Regions from separate parts of the Homo sapiens genome. Here region 1 is linked to region 2. Evidence: fine-mapped expression QTL. A gene starts in region 2. The other region holds a variant in brackets. All regions are shown on one strand. Distances are between the middles of the regions. Region 1 overlaps PLVAP (plasmalemma vesicle associated protein). Region 2 holds the start of DDA1 (DET1 and DDB1 associated 1).

Evidence for each region. PIP is the estimated chance that this variant, and not a neighbour inherited with it, causes the effect. A credible set is the group of variants that fine-mapping cannot tell apart.
Region 1: its variant is the best candidate, but not a certain one, in a credible set for the expression of DDA1 in whole blood (INTERVAL, PIP 0.59).

Annotation. Positions count from the first base shown.
Region 1 is chr19:17,352,873-17,358,240 of GRCh38, reverse strand. All of the region lies in intron 5 of PLVAP (plasmalemma vesicle associated protein), which reads left to right. Among named protein-coding and RNA genes, the nearest start is that of GTPBP3, 18 kb to the right of the region's middle. The variant C/T (reference allele first, on the strand shown) is at 2,581.
Region 2 is chr19:17,307,350-17,312,657 of GRCh38, reverse strand. It overlaps DDA1 (DET1 and DDB1 associated 1), which reads right to left and starts at 3,095. Exons shown (of 5, transcript NM_024050.6): 1 at 3,001-3,095. The coding sequence starts at 3,003. RefSeq lists enhancers at 1-441, 2,667-3,230, 3,320-3,509, 3,231-3,792 and a silencer at 2,780-2,879.

The DNA of each region.
Region 1 (5,368 bases), 46 kb before region 2:
AGCTCACTCCCTCGCCAAGCTGTCTCTCAACCCCTTTGCTCTAGATGGCTCTGTCTGGGAGAAAGTTCTCAGCCCTGAGCAGCCCACAGGGAGGGAAACAAAAAGGTGAGGAGGAGATTCCCCGCTCCAAGCAAACACAATTTTCCTCTCTCCATCTTGGCCGAAAGCCCTCATGGCAAGGAAGGAGGTTCTATTATTATCCCCACTTCTCAGAGGAGGAAACTGAGGCCCCAGGGAAGTGAGCAGCCTGGGGTCACACAGTGGAGAATCAGGGCCAGGCCCGGGCTCCCAGCCCAGGACTGTCAGGGCCTCGGCTGAGAACCAGGGAAGCTCTTGACATTGTTTACCCCGAAATGACGTCCACCTGCCGAGAAAACAATGTGTACTTAAGCCTGGACCTTGCCTGCTTCTCTCCTCACGGTCGCAGGAAGGGCTTCTGGCCTGCTGGCTTCTGCCCTTGACTCGCCTTCCCCTGAGAGAGGCCGGGGGCAAGTGGGCTGGGGCTGTCTGCTCTGGGTTAACTGGGCAACTTGGGGAGAGTCACTGGAATTTTATTTTTTTAATCATTATTTTTTTCGAGACAGGGTCTTGCTCTGTCACCCAGGCTGGAGTGCAGTGGCACGATCATAGCTCACTGCAGCCTCGAACTCCTGGGCTCAAACAATCTTCCTGCCTCAGCCTCCCCAGTGGTTGAGCCTACAGGTACACTCCACCATGCCTAGCTAAATTGTTATTTTTTTGTAGAGACAGGGGTCTTGCTATGTTGCCCAGGCTGGATTTGAACTCCTGGCCTCAAGTGATCTTCCTGCCTCGGCCTCCCAAGTAGCTGAGTCACTAGAATTTTAGATGCACCTAATGAGGTGCTGGGACAAGACTCAGCATTAAATCACCCACCTCATGCATCGGGAGAGTTGATTTTTCCTTTTCCACTCCTTTTTCTTTTTTTTGAGATGGACTCTCACTCTGTCTCCTAGGCAGGAGTGCAGTGGCGCAATCACAGCTCACTGCAACCTCCGTCTCCTGGGTTAAGCAATTGTCCTGCCTCAGCCTCCTGAGTAGCTGGGATTACAGGAGTGTACCACCACACCTGGCTAATTTTTGTATCTTTTTCTACAAAATTTGTAAAAATTTTGGGGTTTCACCATGTTGGCCATGCTGGTCTCAAACTCCTGGCCTCAAGTGATCCGCCCTCCTTGGCCTCCCAAAGTGCTGGGATTAGAGGTATAAGCCACCCCCTCCGGCCTCCACTCTTACTTCTTCTTCTTTTGTTTTTTTGTTTTTGAGACGGAGTTTCTCTCTCGTTGCCCAGGCTGGAGTGCAATGGCCCGATCTCAGCTCACCGCAACCTCCACCTCCTGGGTTCAAGTGATTCTCCTGCCTCAGCCTCCCAAGCAGCTGGGATTACAGGCATGCGCCATCACGCCCGGCTAATTTTGTTTTTTTAGTAGAGACGGGGTTTCACCATGTTGGTCAGGCTGGTCTCGAACTCCCGACCTCAGGTGATCCACCCACCTCAGCCTCCCACAGTGCTGGGATTACAGGCGTGAGCCATCACACCCGACCCACTCTTATTCCTTCTAAGCCTTGATAAAATCTCAGTTTAGTGGGACAAAGTGGCTCACGCCTGTAATCCCAGCACTTTGGGAGGCTGAGGAGGATGAATTGCTTGAGTCTAGGAGTTCAAGTCCAGCCTGGGCAACATAGCAAGTCCTCGTCTCTAAGAGAGAAAAAATAAAATTCTCATTAATATAGTGTTTAGTTTAAAAAAATAAAATAGACAAAGCCTTAGCTGGTATTAACTTGCTCTAACGGCTTCCAGACACTTGCGCATCTCCCGTGTTCCCAAATCGATGGCCGACGCAGGGCCCCACATCAGCTGGGCTTCGGCGTGAGGTCTTGCTCTTATGGAAAAAAAATCTTTCTTTTTCTTTTTAGATGGAGTCTCACTCTGTCGCTGGGCTGGAGTGCAGTGGCGCAATCTCTGCTCACTGAAACCTCTGTCTCCCGGGTTCAAGCGATTCTCATGCCTCAGCCTCCCGAGTAGCTGGGATTACAGGCACGTGCCAGCATGCCCGGTTATTTTTTGTATTTTTTAGTAGAGACAGGGTTTCACCACATTAGCCAGGCTGGTCTCGAACTCCTGACCTCAGGCAGTCCGCCCGCCTTGGCCTCCCAAAGTTCTGGGATTACAGGCATGAGCCATGGTGCCCGGCCTATGGAAAATTTTAAAGTCATTTTCTGTTGGTGATGTGTGCGCCAGCTTTCCTTTACTTGATGAGACTGAGTGTCCCTTCCTGCAGATCACATGAGGCAGAGCAAAAACAAAAACAAACAAAAAAAGAAGTAGAGACTGAGTGTCTTTGGAAATCAATGTAAGTTTCTTTAAAAACGATATAAAGACAGTAATGGCTGGGTATGTTGGCTCACACCTGTAATCCCAGAACTTTGGGAGGCTGAGGCGGGCAGATCATGAGGTTAAGAGTTCAAGACCAGCATGGCCAACATGGTGATACCCTGTCTCTACTAAAAATACAAAAAATTAACTGGACATGGTGGAGTGTGCCTGTAATCCCAGCTACT[C/T]GGGAGGCTAAGGCAGGAGAATTGCTTGAACCAGGACCTGGGAGGTGGAGGTTGCAGTGAGCTGAGATTGCACCACTGCACTCCAGCCTGGGCTACAGAGCGAGACACTGTCTCAAAAAAAAAAAAAAAAATTAACCAGGCATGATGGCATGCACCTGTAGTCCCAGCTACTTGGGAGGCTGAGGCAGGAGGACTGCTTGAGCCGAGGAGTTCAAGGCTGCAGTGAGCTATGATCACGCCACTGCACTCCAACCTGGGTGACAGAGGAAGACCCTGCCTCTAAAACGTTTTTTAAATGGCAAATATTAAGTAAATCTTGGTCCAGGAGCTATGTGGCTGAATATGGCAAAAATTGCAATGGGAAGAGCTTTTTTTAAAAAAGATTTTATTATTTATTTTATTATTATTATTATTATTATTATTATTATTATTATTTTGAGATGGAGTCTCACTCTGCCACCCACGCTGGAGTACACTGGTGTGATCTCAGCTCACTGCAACCTCCACCTCCCAGGTTCAAGCAATTCTCCTGCCTCAGCCTCCCGAGTAGCTGGGATTACAGGTGCCCGCCACCAGCCTGGGTGATTTTTTTTGTATTTTTAGTAGAGATGGCGTTTCACCATGTTTACTAGGCTGGTCTTGAACTCCTGATCTCAGGTGATCTGCCCGCCTCAGCCTCCTAAAGTGCGAGGATTACAGGCTGGGCCACCACACCTGGCCAAGATTTTATTTTTATTTTTAATTTTAATTTTTTTTTTTTTTTGAGACGGAGTCTTGCTCTGTCACCCAGGCTGGAGTGCAGTGGCACGATCTCGGCTCACTGCAAGCTCTGCCTCCCGGGTTCACGCCATTCTCCTGCCTCAGCCTCCTGAGTAGCTGGGACTACAGGTGGCCACCACCACGCCCGGTTAATTTTTTGTATTTTTAGTAGAGGCGGGGTTTCACTGTGTTAGCCAGGATGGTCTCGATCTCCTCATCTCGTGATCCGCCTGCCTCGGCCTCCCAAAGTGCTGGGATTACAGGTGTGAGTCACAGCGCCCGGCCCTTTTTTTTTTTTTTTTTTTGAGACAGAGTCTCGCTCTGTTTTCCAGGCTGGAGTGCAATGGTGCCATCTCGGCTCACTGTAACCTCTGCCTCCCAGGTTCAAGTGATTCTCCTACTTCAGCCTCCCGAGTAGCTGGGATTAAAGGCATGCACCACCACACCCGGCTAATTTTTGTATTTTTAGTAGAGACGGCGTTTCGCCATGTTGGCCAGGCTGGTCTTAAACTCCTGACCTCAGGTGATCCGCCCACCTCCGTCTCCCAAAGTGCTAGGATTACAGGTATGAGCCACTGCGCCTGGCATTATTTTCTTAATCTTTTTTATTTTTTGAGAGAGTCTTGCTGTGTTGCCCAGGCTGCAGTGCAGTGGTGTGATCTTGGCTCACTGCAACTCCCACCTCCTGGGTTCAAGCAATTCTCATGCCTCAGCCTCCCAAGTAGCTGGGATTACAGACATGCATCACCAGGCCCGGCTAACTTTTGTATTTATAGTAGAAATGAGTTTTCACCACATTGGCCAGGCTGGTTTTGAACTCCTAGCCTCAAATGATCCCTCCACCTCGGCCTCCCAAAGTGCTGGGATTACAGGCATGAGCCACCGCGCCCGGCCGTATGGGCTTAAGATGGGAGTCCAGCCCTGGCTCTGAGCTGGACACGTGGTTAATGTTGTTCAAGTTCACTGTTAACGCCTCTGATGATTCGTGTGTCCATTCGAGCCGTATTTATTGAGCAGCTGCTGGTAACCGGGCATGGTGCTGGGTGCTGGGAACAAGGCACAGAAACCCGCTGCCCTCATGGGGCTCACAGTCTAGTGGGAGAGATGGATAATAAATTAGATGAACGGGTCACTCAAGGGTCCTTTGGTGATGGGCGAGACAGAGAAAGGGGCAGGAAGCGTAAGAAGGTTGGAACTTTCTACCAGAGACAGGGCAGGCTACACCGAGGAGGTGATATTGAAGCAGAGACCCAGAGGAGGTGAGGGAGGAGCCATGGGGGGATCCCAGGAAGGGTGCACCAGACAGAGGACACAGCCAGGGCAAAGGCCCCAAGGTGGGACCGTGCCTTGTGTGTTTGAGGGAAGAGGCCGGTGTGGCTGGAGTGGAGTGATGGAGGGGAACGGGAGGAGGAGGTGAGGGCAGGGAAGTGATGGGAGCTGATCAAGCCCTGCCTGTGGCTGCTGTGAGGACCTGAGCAGACGGGGGATGTGCATGACCCAGTTCAAGCATCCACAAGTTCCTCTGGTCACTGTTGGGGAACAGACTACGGGACAAAGAGCTGGGGACCAGGACAGAGGGATGTGCATTGACCCAGTTCAAGCAAAGATGGAGCCTTGCAGGCTGGCAGCAGGGACAAGAGCTGGGTAAATGCTGGTTGAGGATGGAGTCTGGGGCCAGGGCCAGGGCCCAGAGCCAACCAAGGAACGTGAGGCCACTCGGGCCCCAGGGAAGAGCCGGGGAAGGAAGGGAGAGGACCAGCGGAAGCGGGACTTAGCCACAGCCCCCTCCTCCCCCAGCAGGAAACAGGCTCTAAGCCAACCCCTGACCCCTCGCAGGAACCTCTGCCAGGCCCAGGAGGGGGAGGGCATCCCAGATAGCAAGACAACTCCGATCGTGCAAAGGCGGTGGGGCCGGAGGGTGCGGAAGCAGTGTGATGGCTCTTGGAATTGTTGGGTCTTTGGCACAGCAGGAGTCCCTGATGGGGAGGCCTGGCAGGGGCAGAGGGGTGGAGCCCTGAATGCCACGTTG
Region 2 (5,308 bases):
CCTCGAGGGCGCAGTGTGAGGTGCAAGGCAGAGCTCTGGCCCATTTAGGGGATAAAGGAGGGCTGCCCAGACGCAGGGATGCAGGCACTGAGACCTGAAGGGTGAGGAGGGGTCCCTGTCCCCCTTCGCAGCCCTGGCCCAGCTTGCCCCTGCTGGACTCCCATCATACACACCCTCTGCCACACACACCCTCTAGGAATGCCCCTCATGCCTCCATGTGGCAAATACCTGCTAACCTCCCCACCAGCTCCAACACCCTCCCTGGCCCCTTTGTTCCCCCGACACTTCGGGAGCCTCTCCCAGAGCCTCCCTCACACCCCGGCGAGGTCATCTGCTTACATGTCCACCTCCCTGGCTGGACTGGTACCTCCCCAAGGGAAGAGGACAGGACAGGGCTGACTGAACCCTGGCCGGGCTCACACAGGGCCCGGTGGCTGAGTGGCGAGAGGTGCAGGTACTCCGGGCATTCTGCTCTCAATCCTGGCTTAGCCCGTCCCTGGTTGTGTGACCTGGGACGAGGGACTTCCCAGCCTCTGGGCCTCCCTGTGAAGAGACGCATTCCAACAGGGCCACCTCCCAGGGTTACTCTGAGTCATAAGACAACAAGGGGAATGCTTTGCACAGAGCTCCCTCAGGGGCAGCCTTTAGGATCAACATGTCTGCGTTGGACAAATGAATGAAGGCAGGGTACGTGCAGCCTTCCTGTCATGCTAAGCTGGAAAACAAGGCCTCGAGACATGGGGGCAGGGGGTGGGGGAGGCCTCATTCCAGACAAATGCCAGCCACGGCTGGGCCCTCACAGGTGCCTCAGCAGACACGCACTGGACACCTGTGTGCCAGTCCCACTGCAGGTAGCCTGCCAGAGACCCAACAAAGAGATGAGAAAGAGAAGCAGTACACTAATAGCAGAGAACTGGGGGCCCCCCAAAGTCAGGAATGACCTCGATCACAGGAGGAAGAGTGTTCCGAGCAGAAAGAGCAGCAGGTGTAAAGGCCCTGGGGTAGCAGGAACCTGGAGTGTGAGGAAGTGAAAACAAGGCCAGGGTGGCTGAAGCTCACAGACAGAGTGGAGAAGAGAGTGGAGATAAGGTCATAGAGGTGGCCAGGGGCCTCAGGGTGAGGAGGGGAGCCGCCAGGGTTCCTGGAGCATTTTATAGGCTAGAAAGTGGTATCATTTGATGCACATCTTTAAAAGCTCCTTCTGGCCGGGCGCAGTGGCTCACACCTGTACTCCCAGCACTTTGGGAGTCCGAAGCGGGTGGATCACAAGGTCAGGAGTTCAAGACCAGCCTGGCCAATATGGTGAAAACCTGTCTCTACTAGAAATACAAAAATTAGCCGGGCATGGTGGTGGGTCCCACCTACTTGGGAGGCTGAGGCAGGAGAATGGCTTGAACCCAGGAGGCGGAGGTTCCAGTGAGCCGAGATCATGCCACTGCACTCCAGCCTGGGCGACAGAGCAAGACTCCATCTCAAAAGAAAAAAAAAAAACAACCTCCTTCTCAGGCCCCATGCAGTGCCTCACACCTGTAATACCAGCACTTTGGGAGGCTGAGGCAGGATCACTTGAGCCCAGGAGTTTGAGACCAGCCTGGGCAACATAGGGAATCCCCATCTCTCCAAAAAGTACAAAAATGAGCCTGGTGTGGGGATCTCTTGAGCCTCCAGTCTGGGCGCCAGAGTGAGACCCTGACTCCAAAAAAAAAGTTCCTTCTGGTTCAGGTGAATTATGAACTGCCAAAGGGGTGAGAGCAAGGCTAGGAGACCAGGGAAGAAGCTGGGACAGGTATGCAGGTGGGAAGTGGCAGTACCTGCAACAGGGCATGAAGCCATGGATGAATTCAGGTGTGTTCAGAAGGCAGAGACAATCTAATCCACTTATGATTGGCTGTAGGGATGAGACTGTACCAAGGTATCAAGGACAACTCCCAGGCTTGGGGACCCGCACACTAGGAACCCACCTTCCCATTTCCTTCCTGAAAGGGAGTCTTCCTTTCATCCCCACCACATCCCAAGGACTGTGGATTGTGGGCTGGGACTCTGGGTCAGGGGACAAAGGAGACTTGAGGTATCTTGACCAAGCTTCCCATCACCCTTCCCAGCCCTCAGGATGCCAACTAATGGGGGTTGTGGAGAGGCTTTAGTTCCACTCTGAGGGTGGGTCACCATCCCACTTTTCAGGTGGGGAGACTGAACCCCGAAGAACCACCAGACCCAAATTCCAGGATGACTGAGGAACCCTGAAGGAATTTCAACCTTCCAACAGCCAGGTGGGGACGATCCACACTTCATAATGAGGGGACAGCTAGAAGAGAACGTCACTGGCCTCGAGTCACCCAGCTCATCTGTTGAGCATTCACTATCCTGAGTCCTTTACGACGTCAGTTACCTAAATTGTCACCACCCTAAGAGGTTCAGACTACTGCTACCCTCATTTCACAGGGACAATCCATGCGGATCGGAGATAAAAGTTTTTCATTCTTAGAGGCGGGTAAGGGCCCAGAATGGTGGAGGTGGGGTCAGGGCCCGGGGAACCGGGACAATCGGCGATGTCGCACTTCCTTTGGCGACAAAGCCCTGCATATCGCGGTGCCAAGCCCCCTCCCCCGCCCCGGGGCCCAGGCCGGCCTCCCAAATTCTCCTGAACTGAAGAGATCCAGGTCCGGCGTGCTGAGAACGAGGCCAGACCAGGGGGTCTTACGGGACCCCATCCCCACCCCAGACGATTTCCGGGGGGAGCCGCAACCCGGAAATGAATGAGTTGTCAGGGCTTGGTATCCTGGATGGGGTCAGGGGTCGGAGAAGGAGTGGCAGTGGGATCAGCAGGAAGCTCTCGGTAGGGTCCGGGGGTCGAAGGTCACAGGTGAGTGGGAGGGGCGGGCCGGACCTGAGGGGACCGGGCAGAACGGAGAGGGGCCTAGGGGGATACTAGAGGTGGGTGGGACCACAGCGCCATTTTGTCTAGCAGAGGGGGAGTGGGGGCCTGGAGGCCATCCTCACCATCTTCTGTTTCCTCCGTCGCCGCCTCGGCCGCCGCCTCAGCCTCCACCGCCGCCACCAGAGCCGCCTTCTTAGCCGCCGCCTCACAGTAACTTCCAGCCACGGCACAGCCCACACTGATGGCGCCACCACCTCCCTGTCATTGGTGTGCAGTCTAGCCCCGCCCCCACATAGGAGCGCTTTGCACGCTTCCATTGGCCGCATCCAGCTAACTCATGCGCCCATTGGTTGCCACGCCTCCTCCCATTGTGGTCAAGTTCGGTTGAAGAAGCAAAGCACCTCCCGGTACTTGGAAGCAATGAAAGTGAGATCCGGAAGTGGGCGGAGGCCTCGGCCGCGAAGTCTCTTGGGAGCTGTAGTTTACAGCTCCGCGAGGCTCTCTAGAGCTTTTGTGTGTCTGTGTGTTTTTAAGATGCGAGGTTCGGCCGGGTGCGGTGGCTCACTCCTGTAATCTTAGCACTTTGGGAGGCCGAGGCGGGTAGATCGCCTGAGGTCAGCAGTTCGAGACCAGCCTGGCCAGCATGGTGAAACCCCATCTCTGCGCCTGTAATTCCAGCTAGTAGGGAGGCTGAGGCAGGAGAATCACTTGAACCCGGGAGGCGGAGGTTGCAGTGAGCCAAGATCGTGCCATTGCACTCCAGCCTGGGCAACAAGAGCGAAAATCAGTCTCAAAAAAAAAAAAAAAAAGCCAGCCGGGCGCAGTGGCTCACGCCTGTAATCCCAGCACTTTGGGAGGCCGACGCGGGTGGATCACGAGGTCAGGAGATCGAGACCGTCCTGGCTAACACGGTGAAACCACGTCTCTACTAAAAATACAAAAAATTAGCCGGGCGTGGTGGCGGACGCCTGTAGTCCCAGCTACTCCGGAGGCCGAAGCAGGACAACGGCGTGAACCGTGAGTGAGGCGGATCTTGCAGTGAGCTGAGATCGCGCCACTGCACTCCAGCCTGGCGGACAGAGGGAGACTCTGTCTCAAAAAAAAAAAGGCGGGGCACGGTGGCTCACGCCTGTAATCCCAGCAATCCCAGCACTTTGGGAAGCCGAGGCGGGCGGATCACGAGGTCAGGAGTTTGAGACCAGCCTGGCCAACATGGTGAAACCCCATCTCTACTAAAATACAAAAATTAGCCGGGCGTGGTGGCGGGCGCCTGTCATCCCAGCTACTCAAGAGGCTGAGGCAGGAGAATCGCTTAAAACCAGAAGGCGGAGGTGTCAGTCAGCCGAGATTAAGCCACTACAGTCCAGTCTGGGCAACAAGAGCTAAACTCCCTCTCAAAAGAAAAAAAAAAAAAAGACACAGGGGTCTTGCTATGTTTCCCAAGCTGGTCTCGAACTTCTGGCCTCAAGCAATCCTCCAGACTTGGCTTCCCAAAGTTCTGGGAGCCATCGTGCCGGCATCTTCTTGTGTTTATTACGTTTTTAAAGCAGCCCTAGAAGATAAGAACCATAACACTCCCTAGCTCCTCCTCGACACCGTCTTGCTCAACCACCTCCCGTAACTCCCTAGTATTCAATCCCACCTCCTTGGCCCCATTTATGGGCACCTGCGGTCTTCATTGCCCACCTGTGTCCTCACCTCTAACCAATTCCTTCTATGTCTGGGCTCTCCCAGACCTTGCCATTTCCTCCAAGACTTCCCTGACTGCATTCTTCAAAAAGGCAAGTCAGGTACCTTCCCTGAAGTCCTACAGCCCTCACAATCCCCCTCCCAGCCCTGACACCTCTGTGTCCAAACTGCCTTCCTGACTTCCAGGGCAAAGAATGGGCACCCAGCACACAGCAATTGCACAGTGAAGTTGCTAAGTGGAAGCTACTAAGTATTATTACTCCAACAGCAACAGAGCAGAGGAGAAACCAGCACTGCATTTTATAGGCGACAAATGCACCTCACAGTGTTAAATTCTTGCTCAAAATCAAACATCCCCAAGGGACAAGTGGAAGATTCAAACTCCTTATGGGCTGGAGTTCAAGACCAGCCTGGTCAACATGGTGAAACTCCCCTCTACTAAAAATACATAAATTAGCTGGGCGTGGTGGCATGCACCTGTAATCCCAGCTACTTGGGAGGCTGAGGCACCAGAATTGCTTGAACCCAGGAGGCAGAGGTTGCAGTAAGCAGGGATCCGACAACTGCACTCCAGCCTGGGTGACAGAGCGAGACCCTGTTTCAAAAACAAACACCCCCCCGCACACACACACAGTTTTCCACCAGTCTTCCCAGACCTATAAAATTTATGACACAGGCTGGGCATGACGGCTCACACCTGTAATCCCAGCACTTTGGGAGGCCGAGGCAGGCAGATCACCT